7 linked regions of the Homo sapiens genome follow. Changing the gene in region 2 together with the main gene of any one other region gives a genetic interaction. Each region holds a gene or a part of one and is shown on either strand. Other genes may lie near its edges. The genes, in order: UBA2, BDP1, EIF3C, SPOUT1, PSMD1, GEMIN2 and ADAT2.

Region 1 (3,500 bases), on a different chromosome or scaffold from region 2:
AGCATGATCTCCATTCACTTCAACCTCCGCCTCCCAGGTTCAAGCGGCTCTCATGGCTCAGCCTCCCGAGTAGGTGGGACTACAGGCGTGTGCCACCACACCCCACTAATTTTTGTATTTTTAGTAGAGACAGGGTTTCGCCATGTTGCCCAGGCAGTTCTCAAACTCCTGGCCTCAAGTGATTCACCCACCTCAGCCTCCCAAAGAAAAAAAATGTTTGCCAAATAAATAAAGCTTCCAAGTGTAGTTTTTGTGAACATTTATCAAGTTGACACTGTTATGTATACTTTTCTGAGTGCAAAAATTAAAGACAATGTTTGCTGAAGGTTTCTACAAAATACCCTTTATCGGGTTGAGAACATTCTCATTTTAGTAAGAAGTTTTTTTATTTTTAATTTTATCTATTTATTTATTTTTTATTTTTTTGAGACGGAGTATCGCTCTGTCGCCCAGGCTGGAGTGCAGTGGTGCAATCTCAGCTCACTGCAACCTCCGCCTCCCGGGTTCACGCCATTCTCCTGCCTCAGCCTCCTGAGCAGCTGGGACTACAGGCACCCACCACCACATCCGGCTAATTTTTTTTATTTGTAGTAGAGATGGGGTTTCACCGTGTTAGCCAGGATGGTCTCGATCTCCTGACCTCGTGATCCGCTCGCCTCAGCCTCCCAAAGTGCTGGGATTACAGGCGTGAGCCACCTCGCCCGGCCTAGTAAGTTTTTATTCTGTTTTAGTAGAAACTTTCATCATGAAAGGCCATTTGCTAAATTTTACCAAATGCTTTCTCTGTATCTATGAAAACTATATAGTTTATCTTTAATTTCCTAATGAGTGAATGACATTTACAGATTTTCTAGTTTAAACCATGCTTGTATTCCTGAATAGACACGTGGTCAAGACACACTTTTTATTTTATATGATTCTAGATCCATATGGTAATTTTTTTTTTTTTTTTTTTGAGATGGAGTCTTGCTCTGTTGCCCAGGCTGGAGCGCAGCAGAGCGATCTCGGCTCACTGCAGCCTCCACCTCCCGGGTTCAAGCAATTCTCCTGCCTCAGCCTCCCAAGTAGCTGGGATTATAGGCGCCCACCACCATGTCCGGCTAATTTTGTATTTTTAATAGAGACAGGATTTCGCCATATTGGCCAAGTTGGTCTTGAACTCCTGACCTCAGGTGATCCACCCGCTTCAGCTTCCAAGTGCTGAGATTACAGGCATGATACACTGCGCCCATTCCCAGGATATGCTAATATTTTACATAGGATTTTTGCATCTATTATTTAGGTGTGAGACTGACTAGCAATTGTTTCTTATGCCATAATGGCCTTGACAGGTTTTGCTATCAAAGACATTGCTAGCCTAATAACACAAGCTAAGTAGTATTCCCTTTTAAAAATTTCTCAGGGAGAGTTTAGCTAATATTACAATATACTCCTTGCAAGTTTTGTGAAATGAATCTGTAAAAATAACATAGGTTCGGTGCATTATTTAGAATAATTTAAACTACTTACATTGCTCTAAGGTATACTGCTAAATTCAGGCATTCTATTTTCCTTTCATTTTTTTTTTTTTTTTGAAACATCATCTCATGCTGTCCCCCAGGCTGGAGTGCAGTGGCCCAATCTCCACCCACTGGGTTCAAGTGATTCTCATGGCTCAGTCTCCCAAGTAGCTGGGACTACAGATGCCCACCACCACGCCTGGTTAATTTTTGTATTTATAGTAGAGACGGGGTTTCGCCATGTTGGCCAGGCTGTTCTCAAACTCCTGGCCTCAAGTGACCCACCCACCTCAGCCTCCCAAAGTGCTGGGATTGCAGGCCTGAGCCACCGCACTGGGCACTTAGTAAGTTTTTAAAAATGTATTTACCCAGATCATTTAAATTTTTTATGTACTACCATGGTCTTATTATCATCCCTTTTTTTTCTTATAGCCTATTTAATCTCTGCTATCTGTATTCCCCGTTTAGTTCTCACTTACTCCTCTTCTATTTTGTAATCAAATGTGCTCTTACTTCAATTAATATCCTTCCTTCTCATTCTTTTTTTCTTTCTTTCTTCATTTTAAGACAGGATCTCACTATCACCCAGGCTGGAGTGCAGTGGCACTATCTCGGTTCACTGCAGCCTCAACCTCCCAGGCTCAACTGATCCTCCTACCTCGGCCTCCCAAGTAGCTGGGAGTACAGGTACACCTGGCTCATTTTTCTATTTTTTGTAGAGACACGGTTTTGCCATGTTTCCCAGGCTGGTCTCAAACTCCTGGGCTCAAGGGATCCTCCCATCTCACCCTCCCACAGTGCTGGGATTAGAGGCATGAGCCACCATGCCCACACCATTCTCATTTCTTAAAGTGTATTCTGTGGTTCATTTTCTAACTTAAATTGGATTCTTAGTAAAGATTTAGTAATTAATGTTCAGCCTTTCTTCATGTATGTAAATCTGTAACTTTTTGCCAACCACCACATTCAATACATTCTGGTATAGCATTTTCATCATTATCAGTACAGAGTATTTTTAACTTCCATTGTGATTTCTTTTATAACCAATGGGTTATTTGTAAGTAAATGTTCACATTTCCAAATATAAAGATTTTTATCGCTTAGTTACATGGCTGTCTCCAATATAAGACTAAGTTTCCTGAACAGTCATGGCCACATTTTTTTTTTTTTTTTTTGAGACAAATTCTCACTCTGTTGCCAAGCTGGAGTGCAGTGGCGCGATCTCGGCTCACTCCAACCTCCACCTCCTGGGTTCAAGCAATTCTCTTGCCTCAGCCTCCCGAGTAGCTGGGATTACAGGCACTCGCCATCACGGCCAACTAATTTTTGTATTTTTAGTAGAGATGTGTTTCACCATGCTGGCCACGCTGGTCTCAAACTCCTGCGCTCAGGTGATCCGACCACCTCAGTTTCCCAAAGTGCCGGGATTACAGGTGTGAGCCACCGCACCCGGCCAGCTACATTTAACCTAAGAAATACTGCAAGAAAGCTACTAAAGCATCCCTTCACCATATTTAAACATCCTGAGTTCAATCTCTTCAAGGTAATTAAATAAAAATGACTCCATTTTCCATCATCAGTACCGAAAAGCATGCCAAGAAATATACACTCTTACTTGAACAAGTACTTTGCCCAAACGATGCAATGTATAGGTTCTGAAGGTGTGTTACGAATTGTACAGCCAGGAAAGGTTCTCTGGGTCGGCTTAGGATGACACTCATAACACTCGGTCACACCCTATGAAGTCAGGATATGAGAAAAATTTACTCCATGATGGCAGTTTCTCAACATTATAAGGTAATATAAACACTTCATTCATCTATATTCCAACTACGTTTTACGTTGTCAAGGAAATTTTAAAATATTAGTGACTCCAAAATGCTTACTTTATGATAAACTAACACAAAAGCTAACTGAATCTACCAGTCATAGCTAAGGCTGTGCCAGGACGCCGACTCCTGGTTCAGTGAACATGACTTACAAGCCCAAATAAAAATTACT
Region 2 (2,335 bases):
CTTTATCTACAATCTGAGGGGTAAAAATAGCTAAAACTGAATATCCTTTTAAATAAAAAATTTAAAAATAAATAAGCCCTTTGATGTGTCATCTTTATAAATAATTATGTTTAAATACTAGTTTTTCAATTAGGACTAATGTTACATCACCATGAATTAGAAAAATATGTATTTTTCAGTCAGACAAACAGCTGATAATAGAAAAGTTCTTTAACATTTGCCATACTAAAGTGAAGTTTGACAATTTGTTTTCACATATAGTCACGTGTCCCTTAACTACATGTTCTAAGAATTGCCTTGTTAGGTGATCTTGTGTGAAACAACGCAGAGTGTACTTACAAACACTGAGATGGTACAGGCTGCTACACACCGTACAGACTGAGGCTATGTGGTATAGCCTATTGCTCCTCGGCTACAAACCTCTACAATGTGTTACTATGCTGAATACTGTAGGCAGTTGTAACACAATAGTAAGTATTTGTGTATCTAAACATATCTAAACATAAAAAAGCAATGCACTGTGTTATGATGGCTATAATGTCACTAGTTGATAGGAATTTATCTCCATTTTAATTGCATGGGACCACTGTAATATATGTGGTCCATCATTGACTTAAACTTCATTATGTGATACATGACTGTACTTAGAAGCAAATGAAAAAGCCTTCATCCTTCATCATCTCCCCCTAAAAATAAAAAATCTTCACAAAAGAAGTTGCTAAATGTTAAATATGATACAATTAACCCCCAAATCTGTCTGCACTGCAATTCATACAGAGACATATATCCACAACATTCCCAAATGTCCATGTGTGCTTAGCACAGGAAGAGTCAAAATGTAAACAAGAGTTGTTATTTCTGTCTGAGAAAGCAGTCTTAATTGCTTGCTATTTGCAAAATGCTGAATCAGTCAGAATGAAAGGAACCTCAGAAATGTTTTCCACTGATTATAAAAGCTTCAAATCAAGCTCATTAAGTATTCAAAATCAACCTAAAGAAAAATAAGACAGTGATATTTTGCTCTAAATACTGTTTTGTTGATGTAATTGACTCTGGAAATCCTAGACCTAATTTAAAAAAGAAAAAGAGAAAAGATTGTTTTATTCTGTTTCATCCACTTCAATGAAGATATCATTGAAGAAATATTCAGAGACTGTGGTTGCCTCCCCTTGAGGGGCCCGCTTTTGGGCACTTTTATATCCTTCTTTCAGTAAGGGCTGATCACAAGAAACCTAAAAAGGTAATAAAAATAAAGTAAAAATAAAACTGTAATACAACATTTATATATATATGTGTGTGTATATATAGCAGTCTAAACCAATATGATCTGTTTGAAAAGCAACGTGGCAATAAATATTGAGCTTTAAATATGTTCACAATCACTGACCCAAAAATTTCACTTCTATGCTGTTACATTAAGTAAATAATCCTAAACATAGTAGGAGTTTTATGACTAAGATAACCTTTGTAGCATTAGTTATAATAATAAAATAGGAAGCAACTAAATATACCACACTAGATATAATTAGGTAAATTACAGTGTACCCATAATCCATTACTTCATCCTAATTTCCATGAAAAATTTTAATAAAGAAAAATATAATATGGTTAAATCTGTCACTAAATAAAGTAAAAATACTTTAATTATTTGCATAATAGACAGACCCATGACAAAACAGCACCTAAAGAAAACATATCAAAGATACCTTATCAGAAATTAGCATACTTACAAATCTATAAACAAATTAAGACAGCATGGTATTGGCACACGAATGACAGATATATCAATGAAACAGAAGACTAGAAATAACCCCAATATATATAGAAATTTAGCATCTGATAAAAGTGCCATATCAAAAACAGTTATTGTATTATTAAATAAATGATGTTGGACAACTATATAACCATCTCAGGGGGAAAAAAGTCAGACCAATACCTTACCAAAACAAATTCTAGATGGATCAAAAGATTTAAATGTAAAAGTATTTTTTAAAAAACTCTACTATAAAAATGCCATGGAAAAACACTTTTATAATTCTGGACGGAGGTAGGTGGGGAAGGGTACCTTTTTATTTATTTATTTATTTTAAGACAAAGCCAGGCTGGAATGCAATGGCATGATCTCAGCCCACTGCAACCTCCACCTCCCGGGTTCAAGCAATTCTCTTATCTCAGCCTCCCAAGTAGCTGGGACTACAGGCACACACCACCGTGCCTGATTAAATTTTGTATTTTGGTAGAGATGGGGTTTTGCCATGTTGGCCAGGCTGGTCTCAAACTCCTCACCTCAGGTGATCTGCCCGCCTTGGCCTCCCAAAGTGCTGGGATTACAGGC
Region 3 (3,500 bases), on a different chromosome or scaffold from region 2:
AAGGCAGGAGAATTGCTTGAACCCGGGAGGCGGAGGTTGCAGTGTGCCGAGATCGCGCCATTGCACTTCAGCTTTGGGCAACAGAGCAAGACTCCGTCTCAGGAAAAAAAAAAAAAAAAAAAAAAAAGAGTGTCTCTTAAGCACAGCTAGGTTTTTGGTTTGTTTTTTTTTTAATCTCATAAAATCTCTGCTTTTTTTTTCTTTTATTGTGATACATAACATTTCCCATTTTAACCATTTTCAGGTATACAAATCAGTGGCATTTAGTACGTTCACATTGTGCAATGACCGCCAGAACTTGATCTCTGCTTCTCTGGCAATTTAGTTCATTTACGTTTATTATAGTTATTTACATATATATGATGGTTATTTATATATGTGTCTACATAATTAGTTTTTATCAAGATGGGGTCTTGCCCTGTTGCCCAGGATGGTCTCGAACTCCTGGGCTCGAGTAACCCTTCTGCCTGGGCCTCCTAAAGTGCTGGGATTACAGGCGTGAGCCACTGCGCCCAGCCTATTGTGGTTATCAATGCATTTATTCTTACCATTTTATGGTATCTTATACTTTCTGTTTATCCTCTTTATTTTAAATTTTGTAATAGCTTTATTGAGGTGTACATGACATACAATAACTGCACTTGTTTAAAGTTTTTTTTTTTTTTTTTTTTTTTTGAGACAGAGTCTTGCACTGTCGCCCAGGCTGGAGTGCAGTGGCGCAATCTCGGCTCACTGCAAGCTCCACCTCCCGGGTTCACACCATTCTCCTGCCTCAGCCTCCTGAGTAGCTGGGACTACAGCCACCCGCCACCACGCCTGGCTAATTTTTTGTACTTTTAGTAGAGACAGGGTTTCACCATGTTAGCCAGGATGGTCTCGATCTCCTGACCTCGTGATCCACCCGCCTCGGCCTTCCACTAAGTGCTGGGATTACAGGCATGAGCCACCGCACCCAGCCTTAAAGTTAAATTTAATAAGTTGTGACATATGTTTACACCCATAGAACTCACCACAATCAAAACATAATATCCTAAAAATTTCACACCTAAACATTTCCACCTTCCCCTTTGTAATACTTCTCCCTGCCTCAGTTTCCTCACCCTATCCCTGGGCAACCACTAATTTGCTTTCTGTCACTAGGTAAGTTAGCATTTTCTAGAATTTTATGTAAATGGAATCAACGGTATATAATTTGGAGGGGGTAGTTTCTTTAATCATAATTATTTTGAAATTCATTCTGTCTTCTAAAGATTGGGCATCTCTAATTCCAAAGTCTGAAACTTCTGGAGCACCATAAGTGGACAATTCCACATCTGACCTCATGTGACAGGTTGCAGTCAAAACTTTGTTTCATGCACAAAATTATTTAAAATACTATGTAAAATTGCCATCAGGCTGTTTGTATAAGGTGTAGATGAAACACACAAATTTCATAGTTAGACTTGGAGCCCTTCCCAAGATACCCCATTATATATATGCAATTATTTGAAATTTGAAACACTTCTGGTTCTAAGCATTTCAGATAAGGGATATTCAGCCTGTATTTTATTTTTCTTTTATTTGTGTGTTTTTTGTTTTTGTTTTTGAGAAGGAGTCTCACTGTGTTGCCCCGGCTGGAATGCAGCGGTGCAATCCTGGCCCACTGCAACCTCTGCCTCCTGGGTTCAAGTGATTCTCAGGCCTCAGCCTCCTGGGTAGCTGGGACTACACGTGAGCACCACCACGCCCAGCTAATTTTTATATTTTTAGTAGAGATGAGGTTTCAGCATGTTGGCCAGGCTGGTCTTGAACTCCTGACCTTAGATGATTCGCTCGCCTCAGCCTCCCAGAGTACTGGGATTACAGGCATGAGCCACCACACCTAGCCTACATGTATTTTCTCATCCTCTTTTTTTTTTCCCCGTTTCTAGTTATATATATTTTCTTATTATTCATTTTGTTTTTTTCTGCTGGTTTGGGAGTTAGACGTGCTATGCTTTTAGAGGTTATTCTTGAATTTTTTTTTTTTTTTTTTTGAGACACTAGCCTGTTGCCGAGGCTAGAATGCAGTGAGTGGCGCAATCTCGGCTCACTGCAAGCTCCGCCTCCCGGGTTCACGCCATTCTCCTGCCTCAGCCTCCTGAGTAGCTGGGACTACAGGCACCTGCCACCATGCCCAGCTAAATTTTTTTGTATTTTTAGTAGAGACGGGGTTTCACTGTGTTAGCCAGGATGGTCTCGATCTCCTGACCTCGTGATCTGCCCACCTCAGCCTCCCAAAGTGCTGGAATTACAGGCGTGAACCACCGCACCCAGCCAAATTTTTTTTTGTTAACCTGTAAACTAACTTGTATACCTAATCAGAATAGTCTAAAATTAGTTGAATCAATGTTCTGAGGAAAACCCTTGAGAAAATAAAGTTAGAATTTCAAGTGTCAGAATCTTTTTGACATTGAGAGTTTGTGGCTTTGTAGTGTAGAAGAATAATTCACAGACACTATTTCACTTGTGTAACAAGGGAGACAGATTTTCAGATTAATTTCCAACCGAGCAAAAGCAGGATTTATATAGGAGAAAGAGGAACAAGGAGAGAGGGCAAAACCACAGAACAGTGGATTCTGTTTGCCCGTTTTTCTGTGTAAACTCTGATATTAACTCTCCTTGAGTATGCCACCCAGGGTTGGTGGATGCTCTAGAAAACACGATAGGCCCTCTGCCAGTAAGGGTTTTCAGCAACTCCAGATTCAGCCAGTCTAAATATACCCTTTCCATCATCAGCATTTCTCAGCCTTCATCTTTTGGTCAAAACAAGCTTGTAAAGGAGTGGGTTTATTCTCATGAGCTTCAGCCTCTTTGATGTGGGATAAGGCCATCTGTTGTCTTATGGTGATCTGAAGGTATTAGGGGGAAGTTCATCTATACCTGATGTCATGATTGACCTGTGAACTCTTTTTCTTTTTTTCTTTTTTTAGATGGAGTCTTGCTCTGTTGCCCAGGCTGGAGTGCAGTGGTGCAATCTCATCTCACTGCAACCTCCGCCTCCCTGGTTCAAGCAGTTCTCCTCAGCCTCCCAAGTAGCTGGGATTACAGGCACGTGCCACCACGCCTGGCTAATTTTTTGTATTTTTAGTAGAGACGGGGTTTCGCCGTGTTAGCCAGGATGGTCTCGATCTCCTTATCTCTTGATTGCCTGCCTCGGCTTCCCAAAGTGCTGGGATTACAGGCGTGAGCCACTGCGCCCAGCGACCTGTGAACTCTTACAGAGCTGCTGTCTACTTCTAAGAGTTACCTGATTCTGGAGGCGTTTTTTTGTTTTTGTTTTTGTTTTTTAAGTGAACCCCAGGATCTCTAGTGAGACTGAATGTCCGAGTTAGGATCCTAAGCAAGGGTATACATCTAGGGCTTTCCATCAGTAGTTGTGGTTGGGAAGGCATGGGAAAATGGTGTGGTCCTCTGCAGTGTAGTTAGGCCTGACTTCCGTTGGTGTCTCTCAATAATGAGTTTTTAGTCTCTTAACTATG
Region 4 (3,500 bases), on a different chromosome or scaffold from region 2:
CCTATGCCTGACCCCAAAAGTGGGTACACAGGTTCCATGAGGCCAGGACGAAGGCTCCAGCTGCACGTGGCTTCCCCCGTGGGACAGATGCAAGTGAGACCCCAAGGGGAGAGCTGCTGTGCCCACCGTGGTCACACACAAGGAAGTGGCAGAACCAGGGCCCTGGGAGATCACTGAGCGCACGGCTAAGGAACCAGAGGCCCGGAGCAGGGGTGGGCAGGGCCCCCTGGGTCACCCAGTCTGGGAGCACAGGACGGGCACTAGCACCCATGGTTGACTCCCAGCTACACTCATGTCTCGTCGCTGTGGCAAGAGGCCAAGGGGGATGAGAGGACCACCTCCAGACAAGGCAGCCACGGGCAAGGGTGGGTGACAGGGCAAGAGTAGCACCCGCCCCTCGGACAGATCCCAAGGCCCCAGTGGCTGGCAGTCGGGGAGGCAGGCGGGCTCACCTCCGTGCGGATGGTACGGCTACCCTGGCCAGGACAGGTATTGACGTACAGGTCAAAGAGGACACTGGGTTCAGCCACCTCCAGGTTGGGGTCAGCATCCGCTCCAGCTTCCAGACCCTGGAGGCCCCCGAACACCACAAGAGCATGCCTGGCCCATGTAAGAGGGGGTCACCTGAGCGGCCACCGAGGCCCCACCCAGCACAGCGCCCAGACCTCAGTCCCTCCCCACCCCAGACAGCAGGGGCCCATCTGTGCAGCTTCACCCACCAGGCAGGTTCCTGGCCACATTCCTCCTGCCCTGGCCGCAGCCCCAGGAGGTACACACCTGAAGTTGGGAAGCTGGGCAGAGGCCACATCTGAGCCGCGCTCTGACGTCCCGATGGTCAGGTCATACCCATCTTGGAAGGGGGCCTCAGCAAACACAGCACCTGGGGGTGGGGCCAGCTCAGTGCAGGTCCTGCTCCCCACAAGCCATAGCTCCGGGTATTATGTGTGTGTGTACTGAGGCGGGGGTGGGTGGGAAGAGCTGTGTGGTGTGTGTGTGTGTGTGTGTGCGTGTGTGTACTAAGGTAGGGGTGGGTGGGTAGAGCTCTGCCTGTGTGTGCATTGAGGCAGGGGTGTGTGTGTACCGAGCAGGGGTGGGTAGAGCTGTTCCTGGAAAGTCAAGGACTGAGCAGGGCAGACACCAAGCCTGTGCTTGGCTGGGGAACAGGGCAGAGACTGGATAGGAAGAGGCACCAAGAACATGAAGTGGGCCTCTGACTTCTCTGGCCCTTTTGCCTCCATTCCCAACCCTACAGAAACATTATTGATCAATAATGATACTTTTGCTCAGTAGTCCTTAACAGCATTCCAGGCAGTGCATCCAGGGAGAACAAGGCCCAGAGAAGGGGAAGGACTTGCCCAAGGACACACAGCAAGTTGACAGGACAAAAACCCTGGTCTGATATTTGGGTCAGGCAAGGCTCCCGGCCACCTCCCAGAGGGATGGATGGATATTCAGAGAAGTAAGGTCTGTCCTTACTGAGGCAGGAAGCCAGTCGGACGGTGTAGCCCCAGTAGAGACCAGCTTTGGTGCGAGGGTCCTGCGATGATACCACTTTGCCATGGTAGGTCTTGCAGTCTGGAGGGGTAACAGAGTCTGTAAAGATGGGGTGAGGGAATGGAAGCAGGTGGCTGAACCCTGGAGCTCATCAGGCCAACCCAGGGGTTGGGGAACCTTCCAGATACCTGGGTGCTGCTGCTGGTTCAGTCGCACAGTCACCCGAAGCCCGGGCTCCAGGTTCTTGTCAATCTTCACCTCCTGGGGAGAAGCCAGAAGAAATGGGTGCCATTCCTCTCAAGATCAGCAGGGGCCACGGCTCTTCCAGATGCCACCAGGGGAGCCCCGGGGCTGGCAAGGGACCAAGGGGTCCAGGTCAACCTGCCACCCTCCACCCCTGGCACCGGCTGAACCTGCTCACAAGAGATCATTTGTGCAAAACACAGGTCACTGGCCAAACATGCACCTTTGGGGCGCTCATGGCACAGGATAGAAGTAGATGAAACTCAGTTTTCTACATTTTGGTAGCTCTGCAACTTTTTTTTCTTTTTTTTCTTTTTTAAGATGGAGTCTGGCTCTCTCACCCAGGCTGGAGTGCAGTGGCACGATCTCAGCTCACTGCAACCTCTGTCTCCTGGGTTCAAGTGAATCTCCTGCCTTAGCCTCCCGAGTAGCTGGGATTATAGATGCGTGCCACCACACCTGGATCATTTTTGTACTTTTATTAGAGACAGGGTTTCACCATATTGGCCAGGTTGGTCTCAAACTCCTGACCTCAAATGACCCGCCTGCCTCAGCCTCCCAAAGTGCTGGGGTTACAGGCGTGAGCCACTGCGCTTGGGTTGTGCTTTCTGACAGGAAGGGACTCCATACATGTAAAGGTTTCTGCCTCTGATTTGAGGAGGCTTGAGGATAAAGAGGCGGCAAATTAATGCCCTCATCCCAGCTTGGCTCTGTGCCACATGGGAGCAGCTCCAGAGTGACTTTCAACTTGTTTCTGCAGGGTTTTGTTTGGAGCATGAGGACTGTCTTCTGTTGATTTGCTTTTTAAGCAACAGTAAATTCATTCCTGGCTTTATCTATTGAGCCCCATTTTGCACAATTCTCTGGCCCAAATTTGCATCAGTGAGGGATTTCGGGCAGGTCCAGGGCTCTCCGCAACATCCATCTGCTTGCCCTCCATTGCCAGGGTGTGTCCTGGAGGTGTGTCCTAGCCCATCTTTCTGTTCCTACCTTTTTCATGCCACAGTTGACAAAGGAGCCGTGGCCTGGCCGGGTGGGCCGATCCACCACGATGCCCTCTCGGAACTCGGATTCCTCATCCTGACGCATGTGGTGGGGGCTGTCCAGGGGGTTCAGGAGCCCTGTGGAGGCAGAGCCGGGAAGAGTCTGGGAAGTGCTAGGGCACACAGGGTGCAGTGGGGACCCTGGAGCGGAGTACCGGCTCTGCCACAGACCTGCGTCTTGGCATCAGACACAGGTCTTGCTCTCCCAGGCCTGCTTTCCCACCTGGACAGCGCAGGGTAGGACTGGGTGGTCTCAGTGTCTGTGGCATGATCCAGGGGAAATGGGGGGGCGGGCCCATACAGCGTTACCTGCAAACTGTAGATCCTGGTGCTTGGGGAAGAACGCCTTCCTCAGGTACCTAGGAAAGAATGCTGACCTCAGGATGTTCCCAGGGGAAGCCGCCTCCTACCTGGTCTCCACTTTGACACACCCCTCCCTCATGCTTAGGGGAGTGACCCCCTTACTGTGGACACTCCAGGTACTGCAGGATCCGGGCCAGCTGTACGCACGCCTGCCCCTTCTTCCCAACTCCTGTGAATTCCCCCTCCACAGTCCTGGAGAGAGAGAGATGGGGGCTCAGGATCCAGCTGTGGCCCCTTCAAGAGCTCCTGTCTACAAGTGCACGCGTATAATCCCAGCTACTCAGGAGGCTAAGGTGGGAGGATCATCTGAGTGCAGCAAGTAGAGGCTGCAGTGAGCCATGACCATGCCACTGCATG
Region 5 (3,500 bases), on a different chromosome or scaffold from region 2:
TGATTTTATCAAGGTCATAGGATTCAATGTTAGTATATAAAAATCAATTATATTTCTATATACTACCAACAAAAAAAATAGAAATTTAAAAATACCACTTCACAACAGCATCAAAAAACAAATTATACTTAGGGATATAAGAACATTAATTTAAGAAAAGATGTGTAAAACCTCTGCACTGAATCTACAAAACACTACTGAGAAAAAAATAAAAAACCTAAGTAAATGAAAAAGATCACCATATTCCTGGATTACAAGATTCAATATTATCGGGATTTCAATGTGCCCCAAATTGAAGATATTCAATACAATCCCAATCAGAACACCCACAGACTTATATAATGCAAAAAATCTACAATAGCCCAAAGAATCTTGAAAAAGAAAAAAGAATCAAAATTGTAGGTCTTACAATACCTGACTGCAAGACTTAGCATAGTTTTAGTAATAAGGAAAGAGGTAGTGATATAAAGAAAAATATAGGCATACCTTTGTTTTACTGCCCTTCAAGGAAGTCTATTGGAGCCACTTCTCCAATAGTATGTGATCACTTTGTCCTTGTGTTACATTTTAGTTATCCTTGCAATATTTAAAACTTTTTAATTATCGTTATATCTGTTATGGTAATCTGTCATCAGTGATCTTTGATGTTACCATTGTAGTTGTTTTGGGACACCACGAACCACACCCATATAAAACAGCAAACTCAATCAATAAATGTGTGTGTTCTGACTGCTCCACACACCGGTCATTCCCCCATCTCTCTCCTTCTCCTTGGGACTCCCTATTCCCTGAGACACAACAATATTGAAATTAGGCCAATTAATAACCCTACAATGGCCTCTGAGTGCTTAAGTGAAAGAGAGAGTCCCACATTTCTCAGACACAGATATCCAGTGAAAGAGCGGGCTAGGGGGCTGCCGGCATATACAGGCACAACTAAGACACACAAATGTTTTTAGTAAGTGATCTAAACGTGTAAAATACAGAAAAATAAAATTTTAATACCATATCAATTTGTACAGAATGCAAATTTCTAATACTATAGAAATTTGTGTATTTAGTTCTAATAAAAGCATAAAAAGCTGAGAATGTTCTTTACTTTCTAAATATCTAACCCAGATATATCTAACCCAAATATCTAAAAGGTAGCCCCAACCTATCCCCACCTGTTTTTTTAAATTTACTTGATTAAATAGTACACATGTTGTCTGGTAGGCCCTCCCTACGAGATAATCACTTCTATTTCTTTCCAGAAGGGTCAATTTCTTCGGTTTTCCTTACTACACCCAGCACAGTACAAAACAGAGCAACAGCCTAATAAGACTTTACAATCTATGAAAGCTAGTGGCAAAATTTATTCTTAGAATATGCTTCCTATAAATATTCTACCTGTCCCCAAAATGAAATAAAGATTATTCAATTAGTTTTGATGCAGAAAAAGGTACTTATACCTGTCTTTCTCTGATCCCGGAACAGTACCCGTATTAGTGGATCCAGGCACAGAAGCAATAGGGGTGCCAACAGTTCGAAGATTCTGGATTACAGATGACAAAAACTGCTGGCTAGCACTTTCATACAAATCAAAACAAATCTGATATGCCATCAGGAGGTTGTCTTCCTTTACCAGTTTCTCTAAGATATCACTCACAGCCTGAGGATCATCTAAGAAAATTAAGCACTGAAATGGAGATAAAGAACAATTATTCAATAATTAAAAACTTCATCTACAAGGTACTTAAGGAGACAAAATCAACATTATAGAAAACCTTAAAATATAAGCACAGGCAAACTAGGGCAGACTATCCAGTCTAGCACTCTATTTCTAAACCCAGCACTAGATGAAATTTTTCTAAACATGGCATCTGTCTTCCATAAAAAAATTCATACAAATTATATTTATAACTCTTAATGCTGTGCCTGGTAATCAGCAGTATTCAACATTGGTTGTTGAATGAATCTTGGCTTCTTTAAATCTTATCCATAAGTTATACCTAAGTGCTCCTTAATTTGTTATTTTCTCCCTTACCATATATTATGGAAGTTACTCATTCATTTAACATACATTGTGTTGTGTTGGGCCAGGACAAGAGACATTAAAATTACCATTTTGAAGCATTTCTCTTACTACTCTTATGATCTGCCATTGTTTTAACAAAATTATCCAACAAAGTTAGAATTTTTCTTTTAAAAACTCAATTTAAATTTTCTTGTTCCCTTAGGCAGCAAGTAACTCAACTTCAAAATAAACACATTAATCAAAGTTATTATAAATTAAGAACACGAAATAACACAAACAAAATAAGTGGTCAACAATAGGGGAATGATTAAGTAGGGCAAAGTACATACACTGAATGATTACAACAATCAAGTAAGAGGACTCTATGAAGAATTAGAACATGGAAAAATGTTAAAGACTGTATACAATTAACACTGTTTATCCACAGAGAAAAGAACTTGGTAGCTGGAGCCAAGTAATAGGAAGACTTCATTGTATACCCCATCATTCTTTTTGAATTTTAAATCACATGAACATATTATCTGCTCAAAAATATATTATTTTAAAAATGAGCAATAAAGTTTTTAAAAATAATAAAAAGATAAGGAATAAAACAGCTGAAAGAAATAAAATTGCCTCTAAGGAATAAAACTGAAATACAGACAGGAAGAGGGCAGGGAACTACTATTTTTCATGTCAGTTTTAAAAAAAACTATGAAAAATATTTACAAACAACAAAACTCCGAAAACCTATGTAGAGAAAACTGAAAGGAAATACACTATTAAATACTAAATTGACTTTGGGTGATGTAAAAAATCAAGTTAGAATAGTAAGTTGACTTTGGGTGATTTAAACATGGATATTTTTTCTTCTAGTATTTTGTTTCAAACTTGCTTTAAAAGGGATTGTAAAAAACAGTGTTTTAATCTAAATTTTCAAAGTCTAGAGGATTAAAATACACAGGAGCACATTTTAATGAAGAAACAATAAAATGTGCAATAAAATGCTATGCCCTGAGCAGAATACAAAAAATGTATACAACATAGCAATTGTTAAAAAGTAAACCCATGCACACCTCCAGTCAATAAAATACAATACAGTCATTAAAAGAATGCAGTAGATCCACATGTGTGAATAAGTAGGGAAAAACATCTATGTCTTACCTTTGGGAAAAAGCCCAAATGATGGGAAAGAGAAGCCTTACTTTTCATTTTATATATTTTCTGTACCATCTGAATTTTTTTTTATGTGCAAGCAAATTTATATATAGAAAGAGATAAAGAAAAGATACCCAAATGTTTTGGTGTGTATGGGTAATGAAACCATATATAATTTATACACTTTGAATTCTCTTTAGAATGATATAGTATAGCATAGGCACTGTTTTAATCTTCTAGCTTTTTAAAAAACCTTCGTTATTTCTAAAAATTTCCTTAAATTATTGGATTTTCAAAATGAAAAAAGAATACAAAGAAAGAATGTGTTACAACAAAATAGCTTTTT
Region 6 (3,500 bases), on a different chromosome or scaffold from region 2:
CGTATGTACAACTTTCTTTTTTTTTGAGACAGAGTTTCACTCTTGTTGCCCAGGCTGGAGTGCAATGGCGCGATCTCGGCTCACTGCAACCTCTGCCTCCCGGGTTCAAGCAATTCTCCTGTCTCAGCATCCTGAGTACCTGGAATTACAGGCATGTACCACCACACCCGGCTAATTTTGTATTTTTAATAGAGACCGGGTTTCACCATGTTGTTCAGGCTGGTCTCGAACTCCTGACCTCAAGTGATCTGCCTGCCTTAGCCTCCCAAAGTGGTGAGATTACAGGCGTGAGCCACCATGCCCGGCTGTACAACCTTTTTTCAATACAATTTCATCAGTTGTAATATCATCTTGTAGCCATCTTTTTTATTTATAATACATAATAAAATGTTTACCATGTTGTTTTTGTCCTTTTTCTTTTTTTTTTCGAGATGGAGTCTCGTTCTGTCATCCAGGCTGGAGTGCAGTGGTGCCATCTCGGCTCACTGCAACCTCTGCCTCCCAGGTTCAAGCAATCCTCCTGCCTCAGCCTCCTGAGTAGCTGGGACAACAGGCGCCCGCCACCATGCTCAGCTAATTTTTGTATTTTTAGTAGAGATGGGGGTTTCACCATGTTGGCCAGGCTGGTGTCGAACTCCTGACCTCAAGTGATCCGCCCACCTCGGCCTCCCTAAGTGCTGGGATTACAGGAGTGAGCCACCCCACTCAGCCATCCCTTGTAGTTAAATGGGATTAACAAGGGAATGTTAAGTGTCTTGTTTAGAGTATTTAATAACATTCCCTTGTTTAATCTCATTTAACAACATGGGGAAAGTTTATTAAGTATTGCAAGTAAAATGGTGACAAAGGGTATGTATATTCATCAAGGTTTTTCAGATATGATCACCAGATTGTATCCTGGAAAGGTTATACCAAATTTGTATTTCCACCAGTAGTATATACAACTTTGTTTATTCTAAGCAACATATCACTTCGGGGAAACCTAAAAAATATTAGGACAAAATTTAAATAGCAATTTATACAACACACTAAATGGGTTCCTCAGGCAAACTCAAATCAATAGTTAAGACTTTTTCTTACAGAAAAAGATTCAAATCCAGGTTTCTTTTACAAATTGTGGAATTCTTTTTCTATAAAAAAAAATTATATGTTTCAACTTGACTCAAATTTTAAGGGATACATTTACTATGTAAAGCTAGCATTTAAATTAAATATTTAATTTAAATTAAATATTCTCTACACTTGTCCCAGCTACTCAGGAGGCTGAGGCAGGAGGATTGCTTGAACTTGGGAGGCAGAGGTTGCAGTGAGCCGAGATGGCACCACTGCACTGCAGCCTGGGTGACAGAGTGAGACTCCATCTCAAAAAAAAAAAAAAAAAAAAAAAACAAACTTGTCTGCAATGAGATAAGGAGTTTGTACCTTGTACCAGGATATACATCAACTCTTTCATTGACTTTTTTTCTCCAAGACTTTCTCAATGAAGGAAGTAGTATGTTGATTTACATTCTAGTGTTTCTTATTTGACTACAAACAAGTATAGTTCAGATTATACATATGTATATACACACACACACACATATACAAATATAAATATAAATATAAATACTGGCTGGGTGCAGTGGCTCACGCCTGTAATTCCAACACTTTGAGAGGTGGAGGCGGGCAGATCACCTGAGGTCATGAGTTCAAGACCAGTCTGGCCAACATGGAGAAAGCCTGTCTCTACAAAAATACAAAAATTAGCTGGGTGTGGTGGCAGGTGCCTGTAATCCCAGCTACTTGGGAGGCTGAGGCAGGAGAATCACTTGAAACCAGGAGGTGGAGGCTGCAGTGAGCCGAGATCGCGCTACTGCACTCCAGCCTGGGCAACAGAGGGAGATTCCATGTCAAAACAAACAAATAAATAAAAAATAAATAAATACCGTAGCATCACATCAAGTACAGTCATGCATCACTTAATGAAGGGAGATATATTCTGAGAAATGCATTGTTAGGTGATTTTTGACCCTGGATGAACATCATAGAGTATACTTACACAAACCTAGATGGTATAGTCTACTATACCTAGACTATATTGCATAGCCAATTGCTCCTAGGCTACAAACCTATATAGCACATTACTATACTGAATACTGTAGGCAACTGTAACATAATGGTAAACATTTGTGCATCCAAAAAAACCATATATTTATTTCTTAAGATAGGGTCTCACTCTGTCACTCAGGCTAGAGTGCAGTGCAGTGGCACAATCATGGCTCACTGCAGCCTCAACCTCCCTGGCCTTAGGTGATCCTCCTGCCTCAGCCCTCCCTAGTAGTTGGGATTACAGGCATGAGCCACTGTGCCTGGCCAGATCTAAACATATTTAAATACTGGAAAGGAGCCGGGCTCAGTGGCTCATGCTTGTAATCCAAACAGTTTGGGAGGCCAAGGTGGGAAGAACACTTGAGCCTAGGAGTCTGAGATCAGCCTGGGGAACATGGTGAGACCTCGTCTCTATTTAAAAAACACAAAAGGCCGCACACATGGTGGCTCATGCCTGTAATTCCCAGCATTTTGGGAGGGTGAGGAGGCAGGATCATTTGGACTCAGTTCAAGACCAGCCTGGACAACACAGTGAGACCTTGTCTCTAATAAAAAAAACAAAAAACAAAAAACAAAAAAAACTGGGCGTGGCTGCATGCGCCTGTAGTCCCAGCTACTCAGGAGATTGAGGCAGGAGGATTGCTTGAGCTGGGGAGATCAAGGTTGCAGTGAGCTATGATTGTAATACTGCACCCCAGCCTGGGTAACAGAGCGAGACCTTGTCTCAAAAAAAAAAAAAAAAAAAAAAAGAAAAGAAAAAAAGAAAATGTGCAGTAAAAATACAGTATTATAATCCTATAGGAGCACCATTGTATATGTGGCCCACAGTTGACCCAAAACGTCTAATTTTTGCCTACATTATGAAAAGAAAAACATGCAATACTACCAATTCTGGAGTAAAGTCTCTTTCTCCAAACCAATTACTCAGATATTCCAAGACACTAGTTACTGTTGCCTAAAAAAAAAAAGAGGGGGTGGAGAAGAGTTGTATTAATAATAAAACATGAATTCAACATGAGTTTCATTAAGTTTATTTAGAAAGCAACTCTGATGTTAAAAATGGCCTCATTCTTTAAACTTTCAAAGAAAGCTAATTTGTTTGACTCTAATTAGTTTGATTAGGCGGCTTATCCAATGAGGCTTTTTTTTTTTTTTTTTTTTTTTTTTGAGATAGAGTCTCACTCTGTTGCCCAGGCTGGAGCGCACTGGTGCGATCTTGGCTCACTGCAACCTCCGCCTCCCGGGTTCAAGCAATTCTCCTGCCTCAGCCCCCTGAGTAGCTGAGATTACATGCGTGCACCACCACGTCCGGCTAATTTTTGTATTTTTAGTAGAGACAGGGTTTCTGCATGTTGGTCAGGCTGGTCGAACTCTCGACCTCAGGTGATCCGCCCTCCTCGGCCTCCCAAAGT
Region 7 (3,500 bases), on a different chromosome or scaffold from region 2:
TTTTTCCTGAAATGCCTTCCACTGCTGTCCGAAACAGAGAGCAAATATGAGCGATCGGAATATTTTAAAAGGACAAATAACGTCATTGTTGAGGAATGGCCGAGCCTGCCATGCTGAGGATGAGTGGGTAAGCAACTGGAATGGTAGGCAGGGGAGGGGGCGGTGAGAATAACACAAAGCCCCATGGAAGTGAGTTGAGGGGAACTCCTTTACAACAATTAACATGTAGATTTGCTTCACTAACAAGTTCACAATAGATTTAATTAAGCTGGAAATCAATTTCACCCCATACCCATATCATACTTTCAAACTCTCCCAACAACTCTACTGTCAAGTCTGATCACTTCTTCACAAATGCAAAAAAGCTCAGGCAAAATGGGTCTGAAATTTGTGCAGGTAGCTTTGAATTTAACCTTTCTTGCCTTTTTTAGGGGGAAAGACCAAGATCAGATACTATTTAAAAATGGCTACAAGGTTTTTCATAAAGTAACAAATGATCAACCTTCAAAATTAAAGAATAAAATCTCTGTTCTTCCCAGCCCAAACACTGGTCTCTATTTTGTCCTTGAATATAATTTCTTTTTTTTCTCTAGTCAGGGCCTGCCCAGATACAGATAATGAAAGCACCTAGATGGAAGAGACTTCGTAGTTTATTATTTTCTCCAAAGACATTACTACTATAAACTGCTTTCTAGTGATGTCATGATAAAAGGGGGAGAGATGGAAACAGACCTTGTTTGCACACAGTTTGATGAGTCCTTAAAGAAATATTTCCTATAAAGACAAAAAATTAGGGGGAACAAACAAGTTAGCCAGAACTCTCAGGTAGAACATCATCCTGTCCAAAAGGCTAAACTATATAACTGTTTCTGCTAATTACTCTCTTCTGAGTGATTACTCTCTGAGTAATTAGCAGAAACAGTTATATAGTTTAACTTTGGGGATTTAAAAAGTGATAATGTTTTTATTCCATCAACTTTAAATTCTTCAATATGGCACTGAAGGTCTCCCAACTATCACCCACCCTCCCATTGGCCAACCGAACCAACCTAACTTTTCATTATTCATTTAGGTTATTAACCTTTTCAGAGCAGAAATCCCCTTTTAGACACTGATGAAAGTTATGGACTGTCTCACTTGAAAAAGGCACACGCACATAATATTTTATATATAGTTTCAGCGTTCATAGATCCCCCTAAACCTGAGCCTGAGGTCAGGGAGCCCTGTTCTAGATAGATAGATAGATCTCCTTCTAACCCAAAACAAAGTTCTTGATTTCTTTGGACATGACAGTATCTTTGCTTGGATCAACCTTTCCTTTCCACCAGCCCACATCCTTTTGGTCCCTTAAAATTTAGAAGGAATTCTATCATTTATCTCAACGGACGTGTTGAAGGACCTTGCCAGCTGTTATCTGACAGCACTTTATATCTGTCTCTTGTGGTCTTTGGACATGTTACTTACCAACCTTTTCATCTGTGCCTGACTTAATTTCATCAATTAAACAGTATGTTCCTGGAAGGCAAGCACTAGATCCAGGCACTACGAAGCTTCTCTTGCTCACCTCTGCAGCCTATGCACCCAGCACAAGGTCTAACACATAGCAAAAACTTAATCATACCACATTTGTTGAAATGGTGTCTGTGGTGTTTGCTTTCTTTTCGAATTTCCCTCAGAGCCTAGCATAATGTTATATTAATATCAATTGCCCCAAAAATGCACACTATAAAAAAATACAATTGACTTTTTTCTAGAAAACTTGCAACATTTTTTCTATACACATATGTATAGATAGTTAGTCAATCTTTCTTTTTTCCTAATTATAAAGTAAGATGTGTTCAAGGTGGAGAACTTAGCGATTAAAAAAAAAAAACCTCATGTATCAAAAAAAAAAAACCCACTAAGAATCCCAATACCCCAAAATATAATCCCTGTTATTCTGAAGCAACGGGGGTTTTTTCTGTTTTTTCCTATGCCCTGCATACACATATTTACAGTTTTTAAAAAGTCAAATAGATTTACACTGTATATACAGTTCAGCAGTCTGCCCTTTTCATTTAGAAATGTATTGTTAACCTTTCCCTATATTGGGTAATATTTTTTCATCACATGATTTTGTAAAGGTTGTACAGTATTTCTCCTTATGAACATATCTGATTCAACCAACTAGTCTCCTATTATTTGACATTTAAGTGATTCAAATTCTTCACTATTATAAACAAGTAAAGAACTTCTCTATATAAATATTTATATTGCTTCTTTGTGATTTATTCCTAGAAACAGCTGTAAAATACAAAGAGCTCCTACAGTGCGATTTTTTAAATCAAACTATTACAAAATTGGGGAAAGTATATGCCTCGGCAATTCACAGAAGAAAAAAATCTAAATGTTCAATTAAATTACACAGTAGATACACAGTATTCAGGTAAAGAAACTGAAAAGGAAGAAAGAGAGCAGAGGATATGTTGGCAAGCAGTGAGCTACCTAACACCGAGAGGCAGGCCAGGCCAGTATTTAACAGCAGATGACAGGCCTCAAATCACAGCCCCATCCTTCCCAGCTCTCTAACTTTGGGGAAGTTACTGAACTTTCTCAGCTTCAATATCCCATCTGAAAATGAGGACCATAATAATACTCACCTGATAGGGCTTCTGTGGGGCTTATAACATGGCCCACATGAAAACACTGTGCATAGCATAGTATCTGGAACACACCAAGAGTGCAACACTATTACTTAGTCATACTTCTTTTTTCCAAGCCTATCTTTAGAATGTTATGCTGAACATGTTATGATGATTAAAATGATAACCTATGATGATGCTATGCTTAGCTCTCAGAAAGAAACCTGCCATGAAAAATAATGGTTTTATTAAAAAGCAGTAAAGTTGATAACCTTATATGCTATCCAACAGATCCTTTTGTAGTGATGGAAATGTCCTTTGATCTGTACTGTCCAATACGGTAGCCAGTGGTTATATGTGGGTGCTGACTACTTGAAATGTGGCTAATACAACTGAGGAGCTAGATTTTATTTTATTTCACCTTAATTAATTTAAACTTAAATAGACACATGTGGTTAGTGGCTACGATATTAGGCATTATGGTTTTAGAAGGCAATACAGGAATATCTATATAATTTCAAAGCACATACATCCTTTGTCCCATTTTAGGTAGTCACTCCATAGCAACAGAAATACCATGAGGTAGGGAGGAGTGACTAATATATTAAGACTACCAAAAAAAACTGCTGATAATCAAAAAGAGAACATATAATTCCATTTATGCAAAAGTACATATGGCTGTTTACATATGGACAGAGAGATATGGAAGGATGCTCCCAAAATACTAATAGTATTATCTCTAATAGTAGGACTTTTAGGTAATTTTTACATAATTTGTTAACCCTTTTTTATAGTTTGAATTTTTTATGACCATGAATTATTTACATAACCAGAAAAAGAAAACATTAAAATATTTTCACTTTGGGAAAAAAAAAAAGG

Evidence for each region.
Region 1: changes in BDP1 (region 2) and UBA2 together harm fitness less than expected from each alone (positive genetic interaction), as found in Homo sapiens cells (one large-scale study listed by BioGRID).
Region 3: changes in BDP1 (region 2) and EIF3C together harm fitness less than expected from each alone (positive genetic interaction), as found in Homo sapiens cells (one large-scale study listed by BioGRID).
Region 4: changes in BDP1 (region 2) and SPOUT1 together harm fitness less than expected from each alone (positive genetic interaction), as found in Homo sapiens cells (one large-scale study listed by BioGRID).
Region 5: changes in BDP1 (region 2) and PSMD1 together harm fitness less than expected from each alone (positive genetic interaction), as found in Homo sapiens cells (one large-scale study listed by BioGRID).
Region 6: changes in BDP1 (region 2) and GEMIN2 together harm fitness less than expected from each alone (positive genetic interaction), as found in Homo sapiens cells (one large-scale study listed by BioGRID).
Region 7: changes in BDP1 (region 2) and ADAT2 together harm fitness less than expected from each alone (positive genetic interaction), as found in Homo sapiens cells (one large-scale study listed by BioGRID).

What each region holds. Positions count from the first base shown.
Region 1 is NC_000019.10:34,438,381-34,441,880, reverse strand, and holds part of UBA2 (SUMO-activating enzyme subunit 2), read right to left. Parts: intron 3,237-3,500; coding exon 3,115-3,236; intron 1-3,114. UniProt on the Homo sapiens protein: The heterodimer acts as an E1 ligase for SUMO1, SUMO2, SUMO3, and probably SUMO4. It mediates ATP-dependent activation of SUMO proteins followed by formation of a thioester bond between a SUMO protein and a conserved active site cysteine residue on UBA2/SAE2.
Region 2 is NC_000005.10:71,563,651-71,565,985, reverse strand, and holds part of BDP1 (transcription factor TFIIIB component B'' homolog), read right to left. Parts: exon of another isoform or gene 1,233-2,335; coding exon 1,101-1,232; 3' UTR 1-1,100. UniProt on the Homo sapiens protein: General activator of RNA polymerase III transcription. Requires for transcription from all three types of polymerase III promoters. Requires for transcription of genes with internal promoter elements and with promoter elements upstream of the initiation site.
Region 3 is NC_000016.10:28,717,964-28,721,463, forward strand, and holds part of EIF3C (eukaryotic translation initiation factor 3 subunit C), read left to right. Parts: intron 1-312; exon of another isoform or gene 313-3,069; intron 3,070-3,500. UniProt on the Homo sapiens protein: Component of the eukaryotic translation initiation factor 3 (eIF-3) complex, which is required for several steps in the initiation of protein synthesis.
Region 4 is NC_000009.12:128,823,295-128,826,794, forward strand, and holds part of SPOUT1 (28S rRNA (uridine-N(3))-methyltransferase), read right to left. Parts: intron 3,336-3,500; coding exon 3,246-3,335; intron 3,140-3,245; coding exon 3,090-3,139; intron 2,859-3,089; coding exon 2,728-2,858; intron 1,756-2,727; coding exon 1,683-1,755; intron 1,576-1,682; coding exon 1,477-1,575; intron 881-1,476; coding exon 778-880; intron 601-777; coding exon 453-600; intron 1-452. Other genes in the region: KYAT1-SPOUT1 (uncharacterized protein LOC127739546), read right to left, coding at 453-600, 778-880, 1,477-1,575, 1,683-1,755, 2,728-2,858, 3,090-3,139, 3,246-3,335. UniProt on the Homo sapiens protein: S-adenosyl-L-methionine-dependent methyltransferase that specifically methylates the N3 position of a uridine in 28S rRNA. Required for association of the centrosomes with the poles of the bipolar mitotic spindle during metaphase.
Region 5 is NC_000002.12:231,070,367-231,073,866, reverse strand, and holds part of PSMD1 (26S proteasome non-ATPase regulatory subunit 1), read right to left. Parts: intron 1,679-3,500; coding exon 1,452-1,678; intron 1-1,451. UniProt on the Homo sapiens protein: Component of the 26S proteasome, a multiprotein complex involved in the ATP-dependent degradation of ubiquitinated proteins.
Region 6 is NC_000014.9:39,127,823-39,131,322, reverse strand, and holds part of GEMIN2 (gem-associated protein 2), read right to left. Parts: intron 3,044-3,500; coding exon 2,975-3,043; intron 1-2,974. UniProt on the Homo sapiens protein: The SMN complex catalyzes the assembly of small nuclear ribonucleoproteins (snRNPs), the building blocks of the spliceosome, and thereby plays an important role in the splicing of cellular pre-mRNAs.
Region 7 is NC_000006.12:143,444,196-143,447,695, forward strand, and holds part of ADAT2 (tRNA-specific adenosine deaminase 2), read right to left. Parts: intron 2,704-3,500; coding exon of another isoform or gene 2,640-2,703; intron 775-2,639; coding exon of another isoform or gene 733-774; exon of another isoform or gene 1-732. UniProt on the Homo sapiens protein: Probably participates in deamination of adenosine-34 to inosine in many tRNAs.